Homo sapiens: one gene and its partners. The protein of the gene in region 3 interacts with the protein of the main gene of each other region in a biochemical or structural test. Each region holds a gene or a part of one and is shown on either strand. Other genes may lie near its edges. The genes, in order: CASK, FRMPD1, PTH1R, MAGI1, LDB3, TJP3 and PDLIM1.

Region 1 (3,500 bases), on a different chromosome or scaffold from region 3:
CACAAGCACTGTAGCACTCATCCTCAGTGGCTTTATACGTCCTCTGAGAAGCACACAGGCAGGCATCATTCTTGCCATCATTCCGATGGTGAAATCCCTGCATGCAGAACTCATTGACTTCTCAAAGATGTTACCTGTTCCATTCCACTAATACATGTCTTCTCTAAAGCAGTGTCTTTATGACCTAGCTGCATATACTTACATTTCTGAATTCAGAGTAATTTCAGTACATTGCTGCTGCTGCTGCTGCTGCTGCTGCTGCTGCTGCTGCTGCTGCTGCTGCTACTGCTACATTACAATTGTCCACTAAGCAATCAGAGAAAATTGCTAAAAGCTTCTTTACTGCTTCCATTCCATCAGCAGAACCTTTTTTTTTCTTTCTTTCTTTTAAAGACCAGAATGAATGTTTAGAGTACTAAATCTTATTAGTGGTCAATTGAAGTATTGGAGAGCCACATTTTGAAGGTTCTCTCCCCCACCCAACTCCATTCCCCACAGCAAGAAAGGGAGTGTTTTTATATGTTGAATTCTTTGTTAAAAAGATGAAATGTCCTGATTTTCCAGTCACAAGACAGTAATTACTTTGCACATACAGCATATCCCATTTTAATGCTAAAAAGGGAAATGTCACTCAATTTAATTCATCTGGAAGTTTCCCAGTGTCAAGATAACATTGTAGCCTTTTTAAATGCAATTAAATGTATCTCTTGTCAGGTGAGATGATTTAAAATCTTTGCTCAGAGAGGAAAACAAATGGTTGACCTACTTCTTGCTATTTGCATTCAGAAGGCATCGTCCCAGCCCATCCTATTGGTGGCAGAATATCTAAAGATGTCGCAAAGTCCCCCACTGCAGTAGAAATGCAGGAGGTGTTCCTGTTCCCCGTCCAATTCCTTCTTAGGCTGCTAGAGACAGCCAGTGGGCCAAGCCTTCCCCTGTGCTCCAGGCAGGCCTGGGCTGCAGCTACTGTTACCTTTTTACAGCCTTTGATCTGATCGCTGCAGAGTTCTTTTGTTTTTAAATCACTTGTATTTGTCTCTTCATTAAGGCTTCAAGTTTATTTCTTGAAAAAGTTTAGTCAATTGAACCACCCTCCAGGAAGATTCCCAGCGTGGAAACTGCCCCTGAAAAACAAGGCAGCCCAAAGCCAGCTCTCTTTTGTCCCCCACTGATGTCATGTCCTTTTTTTTTTTCATTTCAGGCCAGTTTCTTAACTTGGGGCAAAGAGAATGTGTTGCTAAAGCTACCAAGAAAACTGCTTGATTAACAAATTCTTAATAGAAATGCCTCCCACACTGTCTCTTTGAAAAGAGAAGGCACCTTGGAATCGGCATTCCAAAACCAAGCTCCTTGTCATCCTCATCCCTCCTCCTTCTTGCTTCCTATTATCAAACTCGTGTGTGTTTCTTGTTTTCTCAGAACTGAACACAGCCTCCTAATTCCATCCTCTTGACTAGGGCTTACAATACTGAGAGCGATTACAGGCTGTAATAAGTTAAAGGTCCCTGAGCGTGGCTTTCTTGTTCTGCGCCTCTAATTAATTCTTCTATTAAAAGATGCTTTCCTTCTCACTGCAGCTTACAGAAAGGCTACAAGCTTTAATCACAGATCATTTCATTTGCCAGAGCCTTTCCTTTTCTAACTCCTTTAGAAATAAGATTTCCCTCTCTGTTTGGAATCTCTGGATACAGGACTCTCCTCCAAGCTCATGGCTTGATTGGCTTTGCCTGTGCACACACACATCAGTTTGCCTTAAACTTGGAGCTATGGGGAGTCCCAGATTTTCCAGCTTAGTGGGTGAAGTTTAGCTGTCACCTACATCCAGGAAGTGGGGGAAAAGGGAAAAAAAGAGGATATTCACCACCATGTTCCCATCCGGTCTTTCCCCTGCCTTGCTTTGTGCAGCAGGTGGGCAGACAGAGCCCACAGAAACAGAAGTAGAAAGAGGGCCGCACCATCTCTGGGGCCAGCACTCCTAAGTCTTAGCTCTTTGTGGGAATAGAAAATCCTGAGCTCCCACCACCTCTCGTCTGACCCTCCATCAACTCCCTCGAACCTGTGCAAATGGACTGAGCAAAAGAAAATGGAAAGAGATGTTTGTCACCACACAGGAGACCTCCTTTCTGGCCCCAAGCACAACTCCATCTCTGCGTATGCTCAGAAACTCAGAATTTAGCTGCTACTTATGTGTTAGCTCCATTCTCTCTGGTGTGTGACTGAGAGAACACGCCAGTGTTCTTACTGACAGAGGCTTAGGGGTGACCCTCTCTGGACCCAGAGGAAGTACAACCTCTGTAGCGAGAATTGTCCTTGGGAACAGAAACAGGCATTCCTCCACAGTGAGTGGCTCCCCCTATTTTTTTTTTATTTGGAAGAGACCAAGAATTGGGGGAATTGATTTCCAGTCTTAGCTGTTTCCCGGAATGTCATCTGTGCAGGCAGGTAGGCGGCTGCCGGGTGCAGCAGGCAGCGTGACTGATGTGAAGGCCGCCCAATCCTCACGTGCTAAGACCCGAGTATCGTGTTTAATTGCAGTGTAGGCACGTCGCCATTCAAACTCAGTTCTGGGGTGGTTTTGCATAAAGTTTTGCCAACGTGTTCTTTTTTCTGTATGTATTATTGCCTTTTTATAAAAGGTGTTGAAGTATTGTCTCAGTGATAAAAAGAGAGAGATGTTAATGGTTGTTGTATATTTCACCGTATCCAATTGTAAGTATTTGCAGGGTACAGCAGAGCCTTAGCTTGCAAGAGCGTTTGTGCAGGAGGTGTCCCTCAACACCCAGGAGCTGAAGGGATTGGAAAGGTTTGGATTCTTTGTAAATGTCCTGCTTTTCTTTCTCTCTGTGTGTATCTATTTACATGCCTTAGCACACGCCCTCCCATCCTGATCCCTTTGCCCTGTCGCCGGAACAACCAGAATGCTGGTGCGCTGCCGGCACAGTACAAGTTGATGAAACCCTAATCAGTTATCTTGTGTGACAGGGGAAGAAGAGAAACTCCATAGTATTCCTTGTAGAATATACATACCTGTAGGATGCTGTGTAATGGGAAACCATAGAATTGGGCTTTTGTCATTTCAAAGTTGGAGAAATGTATGAATAAAATGTATAAAACATGAAAAGGCAGTTGTCTCCTCAGATTGCAGGCCAAACAGCTTGGGGACAAACAACAGAGGGTTAAAAGAAGAGGGATGGCCTGATTTCTAAAGGCCTCTGCAGAGTTCATCCACACAGTTAGGCCTCAGACACCTTCCCACAATGGTTGGGGTGGGGTGGGGGTGTTGCAGAGGGACAGCTCCTGGCCCTGTAAAGGAGCACGACCCAGGCTCCTGGTGCCCATCCTGCAGGTTTCAGTCTTCAGCCATGGCTGTTAACAGACGGCATCCTGCAAGCAGTTCCAGCTCAGTTGCTTGCATTTGGATGCAGGCTTAAAATAGCTTCATCTTAAAAAAAAAAGAAAAAAGAAAAAGTCTAAGTTGTGACATCTCCTAGAAATAGAAG
Region 2 (3,500 bases), on a different chromosome or scaffold from region 3:
GATTAATAGTATCTCCCTTACCCATCGCAGGTGGTAGAAAGGGAGGAGTCACATGACTACCGCTGCCTCTTCAGGGTCTGTTTTGTTCCCAAGGACCCCCTGGACCTCCTGAAAGAAGACCCCGTGGCCTTTGAATACCTCTATCTGCAGGTGACTGGGTCTGTGCTTCCTAAAATAACAGTGGTTGTTCTCAAAGATGGTGCACTGGGTGATTTTGAACGTGAGCTCGAGGCCATTAAACAACTCCCTGGTAGGGATTCTCTTTATCTGAAGGAGAATGGGCCTGATCATCGCTCAGAATTCCCTTTTCCATCACTGAGTTGCTGTTTTAGCAGGTGTGCGATATCAGAATGAAATTCAGGCTCAGTCCTCAATGTAGATGATACATTTTCTAATACCATTTTAGGATCTTTAGAATTACAGTTTTTATTGCCAAAAGGGGCCTTAGTGCTTTAAAACCTCGTTTTAGAATGATGACACTGAGTCTTGGAAAGGTCGTGTGATTTGCCTGGGTCACTCACTTAGTGGCAGAGCCAAAACCTGGTTCTTGATCCGTGGCCTGGTGCTCCCCCTATTCTACCTCCTTAGATGAGAGTTATGATGCCATTTTTATTCTGATGAAAAATAATCATTTGGAGCCGGGTGCGGTAGCTCACGCCTGTAATGTCAGCATTTTAGGAGGCCGAGGCAGGTGGACCACTTGAGGTCAGGAGTTTGAGAACAGCTTGGCCAACATGGTGAAACCCCGTCTCTACCAAAAATACAAAAAATTAGCCAGCCGTGGTGGCACACACCTACAGTTCCAGCTGCTTGAGAGGCTGTGGCAGGAGAATCACTTGAACCTTGGAGGTGGTGTTTGCATTGAGCCAAGATCATGCCACTGCACTCCAGCCTGGGTGACAGAGCGGGATTCTGTCTCCAGAAAAGAAAAAAAAAAAGAAAAAGAATCATTTGGCAGATATCACCATTTTACAGATGAGATAACTCAGACTAGGTGGATTGGACTGCCCCAAGTCTTACAGAAATGGTGGCAGAAAATAATAATAATAGCAATAACAACGCCATCAATACTTTATATTTGTATAACACTGTGTGCCTTATACCTGCTTTCATATGCATTATCTAATTTAAGTCTCACAGAAACCACATAAGGTAGATTTTACTATCCTCATTTACCAGACACCAAATGCTTGGAGAGTCTTGGTAACTTAACCAAGGTCACACAGCCAAGAACTGTCAGAGCCAGCTCTCAAAGCGGAGCTCCTGGTCCTGCTGCCTTTCACCCGAGAGAACGAGGGGACACAGTATGTCTGCTTTTGTTTCCCATCTGCTCTATTTAATCTCTTCTAGAGCTGCAGCGATGTGCTCCAGGAGCGCTTTGCTGTAGAAATGAAATGTAGCTCTGCACTCCGACTCGCGGCTCTGCACATCCAGGAACGGATCTACGCCTGTGCCCAGCCACAGAAGATCTCTTTAAAGTATATAGAGTGAGTGGCAGGGGATGGCAGCTGCATTGCATTTATAACTTGCTGGCCCCTGGCCAGGAGGGCCAGATGCCACAGAAAGCTGATAGTCACCCACCTACCCATCTGTCTGTTGTCTTTCCATCCATTTCCCTCTGCACCCTCTCTAATCTGACCTGGCTCCCCCAGATGTCTGAACCTGGCTGCTCTCTCTGGGACAGAAGCCAACTCCAGATGGAATGTCACAGGATTCCCTTGTAAATTGCCTGTTCCTGGGAAGATGTCTTGGGAAATCAGTTGCCAGCATCAGTGTTAAGCTTTTCTAGGGGTGGGAATGCCTTGGAAGTTAATTTTTCCCGTGGATATGAACCAGTTCCTATTGCATTATGTCTCCACTAGAGCAGTTTCAAGTCCTACGATTCCAGCACCTTCTGATTCTTAGCTTAGAATTGTTCTGGACAGCATCACTCAGGTTTGCTAAGCCCCTCCCCAGATCTCAGCTCTGTCCTGCCTGAGCATCAGAATCAGATGGGGAATCATATTTTTAAAAATACAGCATATCCTTGGCCCTACCCCTGATGTACTAAGTCCAATCTCTCGCAGCAGGGCCTGAGAATCTGTAGTTTTAGCAATTTTCTGGGGGATTTTGAAGCTGCTAGGCTGGCACCATGCTGAAGCTTAGCCTAGGGGATTCACAGGAGCTCTGCGTTGCCCCATGAGAGTGTCTTGTACTCTCTTGTATGCTGTCATTATTTGCCATGTATTTTGTAGTGAAAAAGATTCAGAACTCCTGCTCTGACTGATAGATGGTCACACCACACCAAGAGTAATGAGCTCCCAGAATGATCAATGGGGTTTAGTTCCTGAATGCCTGTGGGGATTTTTGTGGAGAGTGTGTGTATGTGTGTGTGAGAAAGAAAAAGAGAGGAGGAGAAAGTGGCTCGTAATTGCTGTATTATGGGAACACTAAGTACTGAATCAAATGTAATTATGCTCTTCATTAGAGCCAAGTACCCTGTAGAAATGGGCCTCCTTGTCTCCAATGTCTCATGGCAGGAAAGACTGGGGAATAGAGAACTTTATATCTCCAACTTTACTCCGAAACATGAAAGGCAAAGACATCAAGAAAGCCATTAGCTTCCACATGAAGAGGAACCAGAATTTGCTGGAACCCCGACAGAAGGTAATGAAGGTGCCTCTGCCGACCCACTCAGCTGTCGTCTGTGAAACCTTAGGAAAAACATTTTCAACACTGCCTGGATTTTAGACCAATGAATAACTCTGACTTCAAGTGTTTTTTTTTCTCTATTAAGCAACTTATTTCTGCTGCCCAGCTACGTTTAAATTATCTACAGATCCTCGGAGAACTCAAGACATATGGTGGAAGAATCTTTAATGCTACTTTAATGGTATGTATTAGAGAACTGTGAAATCCTACTCACGTAAGGGACCTTAGAGATCCTCTGAAAATCAATGTGTCTTTTAGCCTAAAATTCCTGAGGACTCTGTCATGTACTAGAATTTGTCTGGTAAACTAAATAGTACACCACTGGAAAATATTTACCACGCGTTTGCTTGGTGCTACCCCTGTGATAGATGCTAGGGGAAGCAGGGCTGAATAAGATGTGATTTCCGTCCTTGAAGGATGAAACAAGCTACCCAACAAAATGAAGCAAAGCCATGAGACAGGTTCAGGCCTATTGCTGTGGAGTTTGGAGACAGAAGGTAGCACTGCTTGCTTCAGGGTAAGTATAGGGAGGAGAAGGGGTTAAGGAAAGAGGCAAGAGGAAGCCTGAATTTGGCCAGACTTCAGTAGAGAGGAAAAGGCATTCTGGGTCAGAAGGGGATGGTAAGCAGTTCACTCTGGAGCTTTGGGTATATGAAGGTGAAGAGGAAAATTGGAAATCATGAAAGAAAAATAAGAGTGTTTGACTGCCAAGCTGAGTCTCTGATTGTTCAGAAGGGAGGAATGAGGGGTGGGCCTGAGAAGAGAAACGAGAAGCAGAAAAGCCCTCTGCTCTCTTCCCATTCTCCTGC
Region 3 (3,500 bases):
TGTCTTGAAGAAGAAGAAGAAGGAGAAGGAGAAGAAAGAAGAAGAAAGTAGCAGCAGAAGAAATACATGGGGAATGCACCTGGGAGTGCAGTCTGGAAGCTGGATGGGCTTGAGCCAGCAGAAGGGTGGCTGCAGCTGGATCCTAGGCCTTAGGACTTGGGCTTGACAGATTTGCACTGAGGGTTGGAGGGCAGGTTTGCAGGCTCCGAGGAGCTCAATATCCACAGGCTGAGTCTTGAGAGCCCCTGGAGCCCATGGGCCAGGATGCCCACCCTCGTGGAAACTAAACAGTAAAGTTAACATTGCCCTTGAATCAGCTGGCCAACCTCTCCATTTTGCAGATGAGGAAACTGAGGTCCAGACAGCCGAAGAGTGGTAGTGTCCAGGACACACAACTGGTAAGCGGGCAAGCACAGGCTGTTGCTTAGCCCAGACTCATTTCCCAGGGCCTCATGCATTCGCTTCCTCCGCGATCCTTAAAGCCCTGCGCTCCAGGCATCCCCAGCCCCTCCCTCTGCCTCAGTTTCCCCACTTGGTACCGGGAGGTGGTAGGTTTGGGGTCGAAGGGCCCCTCCTCTTAGAGCTCCAGCGTGCCCTCCCCAGCCAAACACAGAAATCCCGCCCCGTTCAGCCCCAACCCCCGCGGACTCCTCCTTGCCTTCCCCTAAGTCGAGGGTCCCAGGCGGCCCGGTCCGAGCCGGCCGATAGCTTTTGGGAGTGGGGGTGGGAACGGGGGAGGGAGGTGAAGCCTGAGAGTGGGTGTCTGGATTGAGCCCCAGGTCTGGCAGCCTCGAGCCTCCGGGGTTGGGGCTGGGCAAGCTGGAGAGGCCCGGCCAGCAGCTGAATGGGTCGAGACTCGGAGACCCGGACCCGAAGAGACGCTGGGCAGGGAGGGAGCGGGATGTGTGGCTGCAGACCTGGGCGGGGGTCGGGGCTGGCCTAGGGCCGAGAGGAACGACAGGCCTGGGATGGGACTGAGGGCAGGGGACGAGGCGAGGGTGGGGCTGGACGTGGGGGAGGGCGGCAGCAGCCAAGCCGGGCTCGGGGCTGGCAGCCGAGCGGCCTCCCCAGGGACCCCGACCCGGCCCGAACGGGAGCCCAGTGGACTGACAGCGTCGCGGCCGGGGGCGCGCGGGGGTACCGGGCAGCCTCCTCAGGGGATTCGCCCATGATGAAAGAGGGCTCGCTTCTCGGCTCAGGGTCTCTATTCGCCAGCGGGGGCCGGATGATCAAGGGAAAAAAAATTTAAAAGCCCGTGCTTTCCAGAAGAGAATGAAGCGGCGGCGGCGTCCCGGGTTCCCTGCTCGGGTCTCGATGTTACAGCTGCCCCCGCCCCGTCTCCCCAGCACTCACATCCCGCCGCCGTAAGACTCCGGGCCTCGGCCTCTAGCGCAATGTCCCGGGGCGGGGGGCGGAAGGCTCCTCTCGGCCTCTCCACACTCCCGCGTCGGCGGCTGCGGAGGGGGTGGGGGCGGGAGAGGCCCGGGAGGGCGCGGGGGAGGGAAGAGGCGCCCGGCCGGGGAGAAGGGGAGCGGCAGACGCCGAGGCGAGGGATGCGCGCGGCGGGCGGTGGCTCCGAGCGGCGGCCGGGCGGGGGGCGCTGGAGGCCAGGCCGGCCAGCGGGGGGTATCCCGAGAGCTCCATGAAGTCCCCCCGGGGCCGCGGACGGGGCGCTGGCTTGGGGAGGCTGTCGGGGGGGCCCCGACATCCATGGCAAGGCGGGGGCCGCGGCGGCGCGCTCGGAGTAAGTCGGGGCTGGGGACCCGCGCCGAGGGGAAGTGGCCGGAGTCGGGGAGGAGCGACTCCGGGCCTGGCCGGAGCAGCCAGGCTGCTCTGTCTCGGTGTCAGTCGGCGGCGCCTCCTCGGAACCCGGGGGAGTCGCCAGCCCCGCGCCGCTCGGCTCGGTGGCTTTTTTGGAAACTTGCAAATGTTTTCGTAGAGAGAAAAGGGGGAGGGAGGGAGCGAGGGAGTGACCGAAACGGAGCTTGGGGCCGCTGGAAGAACTGAGGCCAAGGCCGGGGGAGCTAGAGACGGACTGACAGACAGGCAGACCGACAGAGCGTCGGGGCCGCTGCGCGCCCGAGCCGCACAGGCGCAAGCGGGGCTCTGGCCAAGGATGGGGAAGGGGTGCGGGAGGCGGCTGCCGAGGGTCTGGGATCTCAGGAGGCCGAACGGCCGGGGGCTGGCGGCCGGAACACCTAAGGGCTCAGTGTGGCTGCAAAGTTGAGATCGCACCCCCTAACTGCACGCCCCGCGCGGCTCAGAACGCGCCCCCTGCCCGGCCCTGACTCCCTACGCCGAAAGTCGCGGAGCTAAAAATAACAGTCCTGCGCGCCCCCCGCAGACCGCGACCCCGACCCCTCCCCCGCCCCCTCCCCCCACTGGGCGTGGGGCGAAGCCACAGCTCCCATTTCCCCAAAAGAAAAAAAAAGAAAGAAAGAAAGAAAGAAAGAAAGAAAAGGCGGCGCGGGAGGGGGGCGGGGGGCGGGCCGGGGGCGGGGGGCCCGGCCATATGGATGTGATTTCTTCGCTCCGAGGCAGACGGGCCGCTCCGCAGCGCTCGGCGCCCGCCCGCCGCCCGCCCGGCCTCCGGCTCTCCCTCCCTCCCTCCTGTCCCTCCCTCCCTCCCTCCTTTGCGCTGCTCGCTCGCTCGCTCGCTCGCTCGCCCTCAGCGCATGGGCCCCGCGCCGGGCCCCGGGGCCTCGGGCCGCCGGGACGCCGGGGTCCCATAGGCCGGGGCGTGGGCGGGGCGGCCAGCCTGACGCAGCTCTGCACCCCCTACCACCACCAGGGCCGGCGGCGGCGGCTGCCCCGAGGGACGCGGCCCTAGGCGGTGGCGATGGGGACCGCCCGGATCGCACCCGGCCTGGCGCTCCTGCTCTGCTGCCCCGTGCTCAGCTCCGCGTACGCGCTGGTGAGTCCCCCGCCGCCAACACTCCGGGACAGGCTGCGGGCTTACCCTAGGGTCCGCGGGATAGGTCTAAGGCACGCAGTCTTGAGTTCCCCCAGTAGTTCGAACTTTGGGTGAGAGTCCCCTCTGATCCAGGATCCTGGGTGCCTGCTGTCTCTGGGATGTCTGGACTGTGGGTTCCAGCTGCCTGAAGCCTCCCTATTTCTGAAGCCTCGTTTGGGGTCCCAAATCTGGCAATTTGTGGTTGAGTTTTCACCATCCTCTGCTTCTGTGAGCACCATGGCTGTTTCTCCCTGGAAGATGACAGTGTGACCCAACAGAAGGCTGGGCTTTGGCCCTGCTGCGTACTCCCACAGACTTTGCTTTGGGGACCTCTGTTTTCTGCAAGTTTTGTTGCAGTCCCGGACACAGGGAATGTAGGTCTGAGGTCAGAATCATCCAGGCAGGGGGTAGGATTTAGGGGCCCCCTCCAGCCCTCACACACACACATGCACACGTCTGGCTTCACCCAGGGTAGAAGCTGTTTCCCCAAGGAGGTGGGTGTGGTGTGGCATGGAGAAGGGATGGAGTTCCCTGAAGGAGACTGACC
Region 4 (3,500 bases), about 19 Mb from region 3:
CAATATATTCCGGATTTTTCATATAAATGTTATAAAATGTAACACCATTAATGAGAAGATGGCATTGGGAATTAAGAAGAGAGAATGCAAACATATTTAAAATCAAGGAGTATAGTCAGGTGTGGTGGCTCATGCCTGTAATCCTAGCACTTCGGGAGGCCGAGGCAGGTGGATCCCTTGAGCGCGGGAGTTCGAGACCAGCATGGGTAACATGGAGAAATCATTTCTACTGAAAATACAAAAATCAGCCGGGAGTGGTGGCATGCACCTATAGTCTCAGCTACTTGGGGGGCTAAGGCAGGAAGATCGCTTGAAACTAGGAGGTTGAGGCTGCAGTGAGCTGAGATGGCACCACTGCACTCCAGCCTGGGTGACAAAGTGAGACCCTGTCTCAAAAATAAAAATAAAAAATAAAATCAAGGAGTACGTTTCTATAATCAGTTGTTTGCTGGCTTAGGCGAATTCATTACAATATGGTTCTAATACATGTGTAAGTTAGTTGGCTATAATGAAACTTTATGTTTGGTCTCCTTAGAAGTGAATCTAATGGGATAATAAACCACATCAATAACAGAAATGAGAAAGAGGATAGATGAGTTAGGAGAACAAGGTGGTTTGTGTCTGTCAAATGAGCAGTGGCTGAATCAGAGGTGCACCTGATGTACCAAGAATTATTTGAAAGTTTCCAGGCTGTCAGCCTCAGTATTAAGCAACTATACAAAAATCAGTGTTATTCAGTTAAGTAGGGCAGAACATTGGACTGGAAACCACAGAGCCAGGGTGAACAGCTCAGAACTACTGTGGGGTGGCACCTTCCTACCTCACAGGGAAGTGACAAATATCAGTGGAGAGGCACGTGCAGGTATGAAAGTGCTTTGTGTATCACTGATTCTTCTATAAGTGCCAGGTTTCATCATCACCATCATCATTATTGTCATAATCGTTCTTATACCCAAGTCATTTCCTACTACATACATCTTGGCTACTGTTTAAAACCAGTTCTCTGAGCAGTCAAGTGATCTAGGTACAAGAAGAGACTTGAAAATTAGTTGGTGGAAATGACATTTTAAAAAAAATAAAATTTGCACAATGCCTTTTATAACTGCCTAAGCCAGGCTCATTGAGCATTTCAATTCACATAGACAGCTACTCTGTATTTTGGGTTTCCTTCAAATGACCCCAGCCATTCTGATCGCAGAACACACAGGTTCATGAAAACATGAGAATCTGGCTGCTGTGACACAAATGAGCTCTCCTGTTGCAACAAACCAAAAGGAAGTCAAAGTCTGGTTCTTGATCTCTTTTCAAAAGGCCTGAATATGTTGTTCATGAAACAAATCATGGTAGCAAGGATCAGGGAAACAGCCATTCTCAGGCCCACTGTGTAAAACTATCAGTCACGACTAATCACATATAAGTATATATTCCAGGAGCAAGACACTTCAATATGGTGGAAAGTATTGCTCAGTGTGACGTCCTGTGTTTTCTGGTGAGGCAGAGGGTGGGATACGGACTCAAGGAGAAAGGAGGAAGCTTAATGCCTCGAGATTTAGAATAACCCAGATCTCTGAGATCCTAAACTACTAAACGCGAGCATGTGGAGGGAAGTGTTTAATATGATTAGCAGACCTCTTGTTTCTGCCAAATAGAAATAATCACATACCTATTCACTTAATACCTATTCATTCATAAATACCTAAAAGGAGTCAGGTGTTGTGTTAAATGCTGGGGATAACAGCTGTCCACATGCACACATGGGCCCTGGCTTTATGGAGCTTTATATTCTAATGAAAGACAAATAATGAAAAATAAATAAAAGCATGAAATAACGTCTTGTGCTAAAAAGGTGATGATGATCAAGGTTATGAAAAACTGTGATAAAGATTATATGGAAGTGTTGGGAGCTACTTTAGATAAAGTGATGGGAGAAGCCCTCTCTCATAAGGAGACCTGAATGGGACTGAGCCAGCTGGGAAGAGCTGGGAAAGGACCATTCCAGGCAGAACGGACAGTAAATACAAAGGGCCTGAGGCAAGAAAAGGCTTGAAGCATTAAAGGAGCTCCATAAAAGCAGCCAGTGTGGCTAAAGCACCATCAGATGGAGGAGAGGAACATGAGACAAGTTTGGAGTGACCATAGCCACATTTTGCAGGCTATGCAGGCCAAGTTCAGGAGATTTAAAGGATAAAGGTTATTATTTTTTATATATATATAAAAAAACTTTTTAGAGAATGGGGTCTCAATATGTTGCCCAGTCTGGACTCAAATGCCTGGGCTCAAGTGATCTTCCTGCCTCAGCCTCTCAAGCAGCCAGGACTACAGGTGGGTACCACCACACCCAACTTAGGTTTTTAAATCTTAACATTTTAAAAAGGCAAAATCTGATTTCTGTTTTAAGGTATCATTCTAACTGCATATGTCTGTCATAATGTATAAACCACAATTTTTATGCTAAAGAGGTTAGTATTTGGAGAAATCAGTAGGCATTTTGAAACATTTAAATAAATTTAAAAAGCCCCCAGTGGTCATCTGAAGATGAGTAAGTTAAGCAATGAATTTGGGATAAAAAAAAAATTCAAAGAACAAAACAACCCTACTTACCTCCTCGTTGCACCAACAATGTGACCTCACTTCCCTTAGGACACTCAACCAGCATATCCACCACTTGGTTGTGAGTTAGGGCCTGCACGTTCTTCTTATTAACTTCCACTATGAGATCCCCTTCTTTCAGGCCTCGGCACCTTGGGCTGTCAACAATCTGTTTCACTCTTTGGCCACCCCCACCAGGACTGTCTGCGATAGTAAAACCAAAGCCCATTGGCCCTTTGACAATATGAACAGTTATGAGTTCTGGCTGAGTGGCTATGGAGGAAGCCAAAGAAACAGTGTCATTAGGATAACCATGAGAACTATTTGAAGCCACGTCCGCTGGGCTGCTTGGCCTGGCATCCTTCATGCCATTGACTTTGCCTGTTTTACTACTGTGGCTAGCTGGTGAATCATAGGTCTCTTGCCCATTCACAATAATTGGTTCTTTATCCAAAATGGCTACCGAGGTCACTAAACTTGTATTGGGGTCATCTGGATCAAAAGGCAATGGATAACCTCGGCAGAGTTCAAGGTCCACGCTGGCACCAATGGGGATGGACTGGAAGATCTTCACAACTTGAGCATGTGTGTGTCCCAAAACACAGGTGTCATTCACACTTACAATCACATCCCCTGTAGAAGGCAAGAGTGTGGGGGTTAAGAAAACAGCACCCAGAAAATTGTCATCAGTATTATAATATCTCCCACTAACATAAAGCTGAACTGAAACTGCATGTGGGTGTGATACTATAGGGTATAAAGTGCTTCTATTACTGATTTTAACAGCTAATAAAGTGTTCTTTCAGCACCTAGTGTCTTCCCTGCTAATGAGAATGTAATAATCACTCACAGAACATTGGAGCTTTCTCCTAAAAAAAAATCTCACTGCAGAAATCCAAGTTTAGAATTCA
Region 5 (3,500 bases), on a different chromosome or scaffold from region 3:
CATGTCACCCCAGCGTGGTTGGTTGTATAAATCGCTAGCATGCCCGGCTCATGGCAAATGCCGCAGGATCACTGCTGACCTCATGGGCTCGGGGCTGGCTGGATTGGGGCCAGTGCCTCGCTCTGACCACCTGACCAGGTCTCTGCCGAGCACCGAGGACCCAGGTGGCCCAGGCCACCTGTGGAGAGCTGTATGTCCGTTACCTACCCTCCTGGGAGTCCGACACCCGAGGCCTTCCCTCGGAGGCTCATCTGGTACATCTGAGCCATCTCCCTCAGGGTCTCTGCCGAGTACAGGCCAATGGGGTTGTTATATTGCCTCGGCTGGCTCGAGCCCGGCAGGGCTTTTGGGCCGAGTAGGTCCCGGGCCCCCTCTGGGCTGGTCTTGGCCCTCAGGCTGGCCCGCGGAGGGCCAGGGTCAGAGGCCTCGGCGAGTGAGGAGAAGGCGGAGGGCCGGGAGAAGGCAGGGCTAAAGGTGGGCCTGAGCTCCGGGGTGCCTGGGGTGCCTGGGCTGGCCCTCGCCTCAGGGCTGGGGCTGGGTGCCACCAGGCTGCCGTTCGTGTCCAGAGCGGGGTCCTGGCACAGGGCAGGCCATGCAGGGGAGAGAGAAGAGAGCGGTTAGAGGCCACACGCGTCCCAGCGCTCCTGCGTGGACCTGAAACAGATGTGTTAGCGCGAGCCCCGCAGCCTGAAGCCCAGAGCGCCTGGGCGCAGCACTTGGAGGGGAGGACACTGGTGGAGGAGCAGGCAGGCACATGGCTCCTGGCCTGGCGTGAGGCTGGCATCCAGCTGGGCAGAGTGCCAAGCCCTGCATGGAAGCCAAGCCAAGCTTCCTGCCCCCAGGGCCCGAGGAAGTGGGTGTAGGGGTCAGGGGATGGCCCGTTCTGTGTCTGTTCCCCCTGCCCCTGAGAGTGGGTGCCCAGTGGGCACAGCCCAGCCTCCTGCTCCACTGACCCCACACTGCCAGTGAGATGAAGTTCCTGGGCTGGTTGTGGGCAGGTGGTGGGGAGGTGAGGAGGGAAGCTGAGGAATTGGGTAGCTCACATTTGGGCCCCTCAGTCTACCTCTGCAAGCATCTCCCAAGCAGCCCTCCACCCACTTCCCCAGTCTGTGACCTACCCCACCCCTGTCAGCCTCTTTTTCTCCCCTCTCCCCACTGCCCTGCCCAATCTGCCCCATTGGACAGGTGGGGTCACTATCAGTTCACATAGGGGGAGAAGTTGAGCAGGGAGCCCTCGGGGGTTGAGCTGCTTGGCGGGGCCTTGGGAAGGGCCTAGGCAGTGGTGAGGTCTGGAGCCAGGGCTTGGCCTCCCTTCTCCCCTGTGCCTGCCATTGCCAGCACGTCCTAAGGGCTACAGGGGAATGCACTTGGGAGGGGCAGGTGGGGAAGTGGAAACCAGAGGGAGAGATCTGGGTGAGGCCAGCAGGCCCCTCCACACCTGGAGGTCCTCGTCAAGCTGGGCCTCAGCCACAGTCACCCAGCGGTGGCCCCCTTGGCAAATGAAGGTCAGAGCCTGGACGCTCGTCCCCTGCCTGGCCAGGAGGGTGACCCCTCTCCTGGGAACACTGCTGCCCAAGCTGGCTTCCTATCAGCCCAGCCACGAGGCATAGCGGAGGTGGCTTGCACCCAGGCAGGCATTCATTCCCACATCCAGTGTTCAACAGGGGCTTGAAAGTCTCTCCCAAGGGGCTGCCTCACTTCCCCAGGGTCAGCTGCAGCAGGGGCAGGGATGGGGCAGGGCTGATCCCACGGCCTCATCCCAGTTGGGCCAGCCAAAGACCAGGCAGGCTGGCCAGGGCCAGCACTCCAGGAACCAGGGCTGAGTGGACCCCGCCGCCACAGTCAGCACCTACCTTCTGGTGAGGGATCACCGGCAGAGGGGTCTGGACTGGAGGTGCTGTCGTGGAGATGGGAATGGGACGCTTTGATCTGTAGAAACCAGAAATGAGACCAGGTGAGGAAGTTGCCCCTGGGGCCAGAAGCTCCTGCCTGGGCAGGGCTGGTGAGGAGAGAGCAAGAGAGAGCCAGAGTCAGCTCTCAGAGATAGCTGAGTCAGAGGGCCCCAGATCCACTGTCCACCCCATGGGCTGGATCTCCCCAAGAAGGCCCTGGGCCCGACGAGGATGGAGAAATCATGGCCCCTGGGCATTTTGGTCAGAATCCATGGGCCCCTGCTACGTCACTGGGGGCTGCCTGGGCAAAGTGGAAGTAGGTAAGACCTGCCTTCCAGGACCAATGGCCCACGTACGGGCAGCACCAGGACCACCATCTCTGCCTTAACTGTAAAGTGAGGCAGTAATGTCTGCCTCTAGGTGCTTGACAGCGACTTGGGCCTGTTCATTCCTCTGGCCCAGGGCTGTCCTTATCTTCCTGCACAGTTTTGTAGCCCAGGGCGGGGCCCACTCAATTGCTATGGGACAATCCCTCTTTTGGCCCCTGCCCCATGCCCACACCCAAACCTCCGCCCCCTGCTCTGGAGAGCTCCCACCTACTTCTGCAGGGTGAGGCTCAAGTTGTAGCTGGCAGACTTGATCTTGTTCTGGGCTTCCAGGTGGGTCATGGTGTCTGTGTTGACGCCGTCAATGGCCACCACGAGGTCACCCTGGCTGAGCTGGGACTGGGCTGCCTTGCTGCCTGGTGTGATCTGATTGGATAGTGGAGGTGGGGGGTGAGCATAAGGAAGGTGGTCCTGAGGAAAGGCCAGTCCTTGGGGAAGAGTCACCCGGGAGTATTCAACAGAAGCCGTCATTGTGTTTTTCATTCGCTACGGCCAGTACCAGCTGCTAACCAAGCCTAGTTCCTCTTTCCGGCACATGACTACCACATTGCTTAGAGCTTTGTGTCTGACTGCAGCCTTGGGACTAGCTCTGGCCAACTGAATGAGGGTGGAAGCAATGTATGCTCCTTCCAGGTCTGCCTCTAGCAACCATCCTTGTGATCCTGCACACTCTCTGCTTGTTGACTGACTGAATGCAGGGCATGGAGAGGAGGAGAGATGATTAAGGAGCACTGTATTGGACGTTGCATGAATGAGAAACTTTTGTTGTTCTGAGCCATTAAGGTTTGGAGGCTGTTGGACATGGTGGCTCATGCCTATAATCCCAGCACTTTGGGAGGCTGAGGTAGGAGAATTGCTTGAGGCCAGGAGTTTGAGGCCAGCCCAGGCAAAGGAGCCCAGACCCTGTTTCTACAAAAATAAAAATATTTGGCAGGGTGTGGTGGTGCATGGCTGTAGTTCTAGCTACTCAGGAGGCAGGTGAGAGGGTCACTCCAGCCTAGGAGTTTGAGGTTACAATAAACTATGATCGCTCACCACTGAACTCCAGCGTGGGTGACAGAGGGAGACTCTGTCTCTTAAAAATTTGCAGGCATCTGCTGGGCGTGGTGGCTCACGCCTGTAATCCCAGCACTTTGGGAGGCCAAGGTGGGTGGATCACAAGGTCAGGAGTTCGAGATCAGCCTGGCCAATATGGTGAAACCCTGTCTCTACTAAAAATACA
Region 6 (3,500 bases), on a different chromosome or scaffold from region 3:
ACGGGGTTTCACCATGTTGGCCAGGCTGGTCTCAAACTCCTGAACTCAGGTGATCCGCCCACTTCAGCCTCGCAAAGTGCTGGGATGACGGGTGTGAGTCACTGTGCCTGGCCTGGTTTCTCCTCTCCACGTGCCCTCCCCCGCCAGAACCCAGCTGCCTGGATACTCACTGTAGCCTGCCCTCCGCCGGCCCTCCAGGTACCACGTCAGATACAACCATGGATCCACCGGGCCGGTCTCGGCCTCCAGAGATCGCAATGCCAAAGCCCCGGCGGGGGTCCTGAGAGAGGATGAGGGGAAGGAAGAGCTGCTGTTTCCCCCAGGGTAAAGGGTCTCCCCTCTATTGAGCTGGGCCTAAGCCGCCATACTCTCTGGCACCCAGACAGGGAGAGGGAGGCCTCACCTTGGACAGTGTGGCCGTGTGCTGTTCCCAGATGGTCAGCTCCTCCATGTCAGCCACCTGGTCGAGGGGAGCGGGGAAGATGGGCATGAGGCCACACAGGTTCATCTGAGCACTTGGGGGTCCCCAGCTCAGGGTGGGGAGTCCAGCTCTGACAGGCCTGTGTTTGGAGCCTGTGACAAGTTACTACCTCTCTCAGGGCCTCAGGTTTTTTTGTTTGTTTTTTTGTTTTGTTTCATTTTTTGAGACAGAGTCTGGCTCTGTCGCCCAGGCTGGAGTGCAGTGGCACGATCTCAGCTCACTGCAACCTCCACCTCCCGGGTTCAAGCGATTCTCCTGCCTCAGCCTCCCAGGTAGCTGGGATTACAGGGGTGCACCACCACACCTGGCTAATCTTTATATTTTTAATAGAGATAGGGTTTCACCACATTGGCCAGACTGGCCTTTAACTTCTGGCCTCAAGTGATCCACCCACCTCGGCCTCCCAAAGTGCTGGGATTACAGGGGTGAGTCACTGTGCCCAGCCTTGTTTTGTTTTTTTTGAGGCGGAGTCTCATTCTGTTGCCCAGGCTGGAGTGCAGTGGCACAATCTCTGCTCACTGCAGTCTCTGCCTCCCAAGTTCAAGTGATTCTCCTGCCTCAGCCTCCTGAGTAGCTGGCTGCCTACTGGCCTCCTGAGTAGCTGGGCTCCTGAGTAGCTGGGCACCTACAGGTGCCCACCACCACGCCAGGCTAATTTTTCTATTTTTAGTAGAGACGGGATTTCACCATGTTGGCCAGGCTGGTCTCAAACTCCTGACCTCAACTGATCCACCCACAGAGGGCAGAGATTTTTGTCTTTGTCCAAAACTGAGCCCTCAGTTCCCTGCCTAGAACAGCGCCTGAGTTGCAGCAGGGATTCAAGAAGGATTTGCTGAATGAATTAATGAGTGAATGAATGAAACACTTCCTTTGTGCCAGGTGCTTTACATGTACTATCTCTTTTTTTTTTTTTTTTTTTGAGACAGAGTTTCGCTCTTGTTGCCCAGGCTGGAGTGCAATGGCGTGATCTTGGCTCACTGCAACCTCCGCCTTCCAGGTTCAAGTGATTCTCCTGCCTCAGCATCCCAAGTATCTGGGACTACAGGCATGTGCCACCATGCCCAGCTAATTTTTTTGAATTTTTAGTAGAGACGGGGTTTCACTATGTTGGCCAGGCTGGTCTCGAACTCCTGATCTTGTGATCCACCCCCTTGGCCTTCCAAAGTGCTGGGATTACAGGCATGAGCCACCGCGCCCAGCCTTACATGTACTATCTCATTTAATACATTCATCAAAGGTGCATTCAATTATCCCCATGTTACAGATGAGGAAACTGAGGCACAGAGCCATGAAGTCCCCCCTCCCACACTTTTTTTTTTTTAGACAGGGTCTCTGTCACTCAGGCTGGAGTGCAGTGGTGTGATCACGGTTCAATGCAGCCTCGAACTCCCAGGCTCAAGTGATCCTCCCACCTCTGCCTCCCAAGTAACTGGGACCACAGGCACACATCACGATGCCCGGCTAATTTTTTTTATTGTTTGTAGAGATGGAGTCTCTCTGTGTTGCCAAGGCTGGTCTCAAACTCCTAGGCTCAAGTGATTCTCCAGCCTTGGCCTCCCAAAGTGCTGGGATTACAAGTGTGAGCCATTATGGCTCACTGCAGCCTCGAACTCCTGGCTTCAAGCAATCCTCCTGCCCCAGCCTCCTGAGTAACTGGGACTATAGGTGCATACCATCATGCCCAGCTAATTTTTTAACTTCTATTTTTATAGAGACAGGAGGGTCTTGCTGTGTTGCCCAGACTCTTCTTGAACTCCTGGGCTCAAATGATCCTCCCACCTGGGCTTTCCCACTTAGAAAAAAAAAAAACAAAAAAAACTCTGTTGCTGAGGCTGGAGTGCAATGGTGCCAACTTGGCTCACTGCAACCTCTGCCTCCTAGTTTCAAGCGATTCTCCTGCCTCAGCCTCCCAAGTAGCTGGGATCACAGGTGTCTACCACCATGCCCAGCTAATTTTTGTATTTTTAATAGAGACGGGGGTCTCACCATGTTGGCCAGGCTGATCTTGAACTCCTGACTTCAAGTGATCCGCCCGCCTTGGCCTCCCAAAGTGCTGGGATTACAGGCGTGAGCCTCCACACCAGGCAGATTCTGTTATTTTCATGTCCATGGCATGAATGAGAACACCAGACTCAGGTGCAAGGTCACCTGGCCACGCCTCCACCCTCCCTTCCCTCCTGCCAGCACGCACCATGCCCTGCTCCCCAGGCAGGGGACAGGTGGAGGGAGTGGGGAGGGAGTTTGTAGAAGTGACTCCTCCTCCTCCCCGGGGCGGGTTTTCTAGGCTTGGCACAGCGGGTGTGTGATTCCCTCTGCCCAGGCACCCCCCATTGGTGCGCTCCAGTGCCTTTTCTTATAAGCTCCAGCGTCTCTAGCGAGGCCAGCATTCCTGATCTCCAGGAGTGGGAAGGCGGGTGGAGGGGAGAGAAACAGAGCAGAGGGCAGGGCTCTGCAGTTCTGAAGGAGCCAGGGCAGCGCTCAGGACTGGACTCAAATCCCAAGTCTGCCCACCCGTGCTAGCTATGGCGGGGCCTCTCCCAGCCTCAGTCTCCCCATCTGTGAAATGGCACTGCTGCCCTGTCTTGCAGGGATGTGGTTTGGGAAAAGGGTACAGATTCAATGCCTGAAAAGCAAAAAGCAGAAGGAGCCTTGGGGAGGTGGTGGCCAAATAATGACTTTCTCCTTGTGTAGTTTTTTTTTTTTTTTTTGAGATGGGGTTTTTTGCTCTTGTTGCCCAGGCTGGAGTGCAATGGCGTAGTCTCGGCTCACTGCAACCTCCACCTCCTGGGTTCAAGTTATTCTCCTGACTCAGCCTCCCGAGTAGCTGGGATTATAGGCACCCACAACCACAGCCAGCTACTTTTTGTATTTTTAGTAGAGACGGGGTTTCACCATGTTGGTCAGGCTGTCTTGAACCTGGCTGCAAGCAGGCGCTTGATGTGGACCCATTCATTTCATCCTCAGAGTGACCTTAGGAAGTGGCACAGTTATTATTCCTACTTTAGAGGTGAGATTAAAA
Region 7 (3,500 bases), on a different chromosome or scaffold from region 3:
CAGGCACCTGTAGTTCCAGCTACTCAAGAGGCTGAGGCAGGAGAATTGCTCTAACTTGGGAGGCGGAGGTTGCAGTGAGTTGAAATCACGCCACTGCACTCCAGCCTGGGCAACAAGAGCGAAACTCCATCTAGAAAAAAAAAATGCATACAGATAGATTAAATATGGTTGATGCAGCAAATAGTTTGCACCCATTTCTTTAAAAAAATAATAAAAAATACTTATGCTTCTGAAGCTGAGCATACCCATACCATATAACCCAACAGTTCTCCTAGTTAAATAGTCAATAGAAACTGGGTCCACATGAGTGCTAAAGGACAAGTTTGAGAATTTTCCAAGCAACACTATTCATAATAGCCCCAAATTTGAAACGATTCACATGTCTAACAGCAATAGAATAGATAAGTAGTGGGTGTAATTATATGGTATAAAACATCACAGCAACAAGAGTGAAGAAATTACAACTATGCACAGTGACATGAAGGAGACACACACACACACACACACACACACACACACACAGAGAAAAAGGCCATACCTAAGAGTGAAGAGTAAATACTGTGTGATTCCAGTTACATAAAATTAGACAGAATTAATCTACAGTGTTAGCAGTCAGGATCATGGCAGACCTTTGCCGGAAGGTCAGTGACGGAAGGCGGGCACAGGGAGGTTTAGCAGTTCAGGTAATGTCCTCTTCTTTATCCCATGCTGTTTCCTTGGGTGTGCTCTGTATGTGAGAATTCAATCAGCTGTATCGTTACCATTTGTGCTGTATACATGTCATCCTTCAGTAAAGGTTACATAGAAGCCCGCGTAATTGTTTAAAAGATCGGACAATATAAACCTACAGAAAGCATAAGGTAAAAGGCTTCCCCAGTCTTACTTTACAGAGGTAAACACAGTGAACAGCTGGCTGCAAACCTTTCCAGACTTTTTCCGCACACGTAGCATTTCTAAAACCAAATTACTATATCTCAGTGAACTATTGGGACTTCATTGCTTTGTGCTTTCTGCCTTATTTTTACTGTAACAAATCAAGAATTAAAGACATCTTAATGTCAAGGGAAAAATACATTTTTGATATCTGCTAGATCTAGTTCAAACCTTATCTTGTCCATTTACTAGCTTGTATGTTCTTGGACAGGTTAACCCCTGAAAATTCAGTGTCCTCATTTGCAATGTGGGAATAATAGCGCTTGTCTTCAAAGGTTGTGGTGAGGATTAAGATGATATATAGAGAGAGCCTAGTGGTACTATTAAACTATTAAATATTAAAAATATTAATGGTAGCTACTATATATTGAGTGTTTATTACGTGCCAGGCATTGTTCTGAACTCTTTACAAATGCAGTCTCATTTAAGCCTTCCAGCAACCTGATGAGGTTGATGCATTATAAATTTCATTTGATAAATGAAGATACTGAGTCAGAGAGAGTAATTCCCTCAAGGTTTAGTGAGTGTTTAGGCTTTGGGTTATGGGTGGTAGCTGTTGGAGCTATTTAAAAGCACGTAGGGTTCATAGGAGCTTGTTTGGAAACTTTTGAGGAACTCGACGACTTCTTGACGGAGTCTCGCTCTGTCGCCTGGGCTGGAGTGCAGTGGCATGATCTCGGCTCATTGCAACCTCCATCTCCTGGGTTCAAGTGATCCTCCCACCTCAGCCTCCCAAGTAGCTGAGATTACAAGCGTGCGCCATCACACCTGGCTAATTTTTTGTATTTTTAGTAGAGATGGGGTTTCACCATGTTGGTGAACAGGCTGGCCTTGAACTCCTGACTTCAAGTGATCCGCCCATCTCGGCCTCCCAAAGTGCTGGGATTACCGGCATGAGCCACCACGCCTGGCCTCGATGACTTCTTAAGAATTTAGTCAGAGTATTCTATTTGGCTACCTGTTTTATTATATTCCTGTCTGAGAAATGGTGGTCGGTCTTTCAGACTGAGAGAGCAGCACGTCTCTTTGAACTGTCACCCCTTAGCACTAATAACTTCTTTTTGCACCATGCATAGTGTGAAGCTGGATTAAGGTGCAACTTATCTACAAGCATCTACCCTATTTTATTGCCTCATTTCCCTGAGAAAATGGTTATAGACTAACCAAGAACATTTTAAAACAGTGTTATGTTTTCAGGTCACCCTGTGTAAATGCATACAGCTTCTGCAGCCATAATATGGCTGTGAAGTCTGTGCCACAGCCTCGGCTCACAAACATACTGAGTCAGAAGATTCTGACTAAAGAGAGTTCAAATTCCACATGTAAATGGCATCCTACAGAGCTGGGTCCTGCTTTATCCCCAGTTTAGAATCTGTTAAATTTGTACCCAAATACCTTGACACAACTGTTAAATCAGCGGAGATTATGCTTAAAGGCATGTAGCATTGCGATTGAACTTGAATCTCACATTTCTTTATCCCAGTTGTATATAATTATTACTATCGTTATTTAGGCTGTCTCTTTCACTTACTTGCAGGCTTGTCTTAGGCTTGTCTTTCACTTAGTTACACATTTACAATATTTAAAACACAAGAACACATATAAGATTTAACAAAAAATTGGAACATGGAAGAGGAAAGAGAGAGAAGTGCCAGGAACTTTAAATCAGTTGGTTCTGTAATTGCACACTACATTTAGCTGTGAGTTTTCTGGCCAAGGGAAAATAGGACCCACGTCGAGTTATTTAGATATCTTGTTTGGAGTTATTATACTTCTACTGGTTGGACGCAGTGGCTCATGCCTGTGAAACTAGCACTTTGGAAGGCCGAGGTGTGAGGATTGCTTGAGGCCAGGAGTTCAAGACCACCTTGGCCAACACAGTGAGACCCCATCTCTATTTAAAAAAAACAACAAAATTACTTATGCAATGCTTCATTTGCATAGCATTTTCAGGGGTGTTAACCAACATTACAGGGGCTGTATTTTTTTGTTTGTGTTTTGTTTGAGACAGCATCCTGCTCTATTGCCCAAGCTGGAGTGTAGTGGTGCTATCATAGCTAACTGCAGCCTCCACTTCCTCCCAGTTTAAGCGATCCTTCCACCTCAGTCTCCTTGAGTAGCTGGGACTACATGCCTGGCTAATTTTTAATTTCTTGTTCAGACAGGGTCCCACTGTGTTGCCCGGACTAGTTTCAAGATCCTGGGCTTAAGCAGTCTTCCTGCTGTGGCCTCCCAAAGTACTGGGATTATAGGCATGAGCCATCCCTGCCTGGCCTATTTTTTTTTTTTTAAGTCTGTTTTGGTAAGAGATAGAGGAATACTATTCTAATGGATATTCCTTTCAAGGGCTTTGTATGTATTTTATAGGAGTATAAGTTCTGCCCTTGAAGGTGTTTCTGGAGGAGCTGAGATTTTAGGGTCTAATTACTTTTTGTCTACCTGATGACTTTAACTTCATTCAGGGAGAGAGTTTAAGGGGAAAAGATAGTCATAGTCATCATCTCTCTTGGTGTTTCCAAACCTGATGAGCATTAACATTTTCTGGGAAGCTTTAAAAAGGTATGGGT

The links.
Region 1: the proteins of PTH1R (region 3) and CASK interact in a test that uses a peptide from one of them, tested with the Homo sapiens proteins (one large-scale study listed by IntAct).
Region 2: the proteins of PTH1R (region 3) and FRMPD1 interact in a test that uses a peptide from one of them, tested with the Homo sapiens proteins (one large-scale study listed by IntAct).
Region 4: the proteins of PTH1R (region 3) and MAGI1 interact in a test that uses a peptide from one of them, tested with the Homo sapiens proteins (one large-scale study listed by IntAct).
Region 5: the proteins of PTH1R (region 3) and LDB3 interact in a test that uses a peptide from one of them, tested with the Homo sapiens proteins (one large-scale study listed by IntAct).
Region 6: the proteins of PTH1R (region 3) and TJP3 interact in a test that uses a peptide from one of them, tested with the Homo sapiens proteins (one large-scale study listed by IntAct).
Region 7: the proteins of PTH1R (region 3) and PDLIM1 interact in a test that uses a peptide from one of them, tested with the Homo sapiens proteins (one large-scale study listed by IntAct).

What each region holds. Positions count from the first base shown.
Region 1 is NC_000023.11:41,514,555-41,518,054, reverse strand, and holds the end of CASK (peripheral plasma membrane protein CASK), read left to right. Parts: 3' UTR 1-3,121; downstream 3,122-3,500. UniProt on the Homo sapiens protein: Multidomain scaffolding Mg(2+)-independent protein kinase that catalyzes the phosphotransfer from ATP to proteins such as NRXN1, and plays a role in synaptic transmembrane protein anchoring and ion channel trafficking.
Region 2 is NC_000009.12:37,730,954-37,734,453, forward strand, and holds part of FRMPD1 (FERM and PDZ domain-containing protein 1), read left to right. Parts: intron 1-30; coding exon 31-150; intron 151-1,350; coding exon 1,351-1,487; intron 1,488-2,519; coding exon 2,520-2,646; intron 2,647-2,776; coding exon 2,777-2,872; intron 2,873-3,500. UniProt on the Homo sapiens protein: Stabilizes membrane-bound GPSM1, and thereby promotes its interaction with GNAI1.
Region 3 is NC_000003.12:46,880,721-46,884,220, forward strand, and holds part of PTH1R (parathyroid hormone/parathyroid hormone-related peptide receptor precursor), read left to right. Parts: intron 1-341; coding exon of another isoform or gene 342-398; intron 399-1,274; exon of another isoform or gene 1,275-1,462; intron 1,463-1,528; exon of another isoform or gene 1,529-1,744; intron 1,745-2,791; 5' UTR 2,792-2,839; coding exon 2,840-2,914; intron 2,915-3,500.
Region 4 is NC_000003.12:65,426,919-65,430,418, forward strand, and holds part of MAGI1 (membrane-associated guanylate kinase, WW and PDZ domain-containing protein 1), read right to left. Parts: intron 3,223-3,500; coding exon 2,602-3,222; intron 1-2,601. UniProt on the Homo sapiens protein: Plays a role in coupling actin fibers to cell junctions in endothelial cells, via its interaction with AMOTL2 and CDH5. May regulate acid-induced ASIC3 currents by modulating its expression at the cell surface.
Region 5 is NC_000010.11:86,678,511-86,682,010, reverse strand, and holds part of LDB3 (LIM domain-binding protein 3), read right to left. Parts: intron 2,645-3,500; coding exon 2,493-2,644; intron 1,930-2,492; coding exon 1,854-1,929; intron 576-1,853; coding exon 208-575; intron 1-207. UniProt on the Homo sapiens protein: May function as an adapter in striated muscle to couple protein kinase C-mediated signaling via its LIM domains to the cytoskeleton.
Region 6 is NC_000019.10:3,725,384-3,728,883, reverse strand, and holds part of TJP3 (tight junction protein ZO-3), read right to left. Parts: intron 461-3,500; coding exon of another isoform or gene 452-460; coding exon 404-451; intron 281-403; coding exon 171-280; intron 1-170. UniProt on the Homo sapiens protein: TJP1, TJP2, and TJP3 are closely related scaffolding proteins that link tight junction (TJ) transmembrane proteins such as claudins, junctional adhesion molecules, and occludin to the actin cytoskeleton.
Region 7 is NC_000010.11:95,281,004-95,284,503, reverse strand, and holds part of PDLIM1 (PDZ and LIM domain protein 1), read left to right. Parts: intron 1-3,500. UniProt on the Homo sapiens protein: Cytoskeletal protein that may act as an adapter that brings other proteins (like kinases) to the cytoskeleton. Involved in assembly, disassembly and directioning of stress fibers in fibroblasts.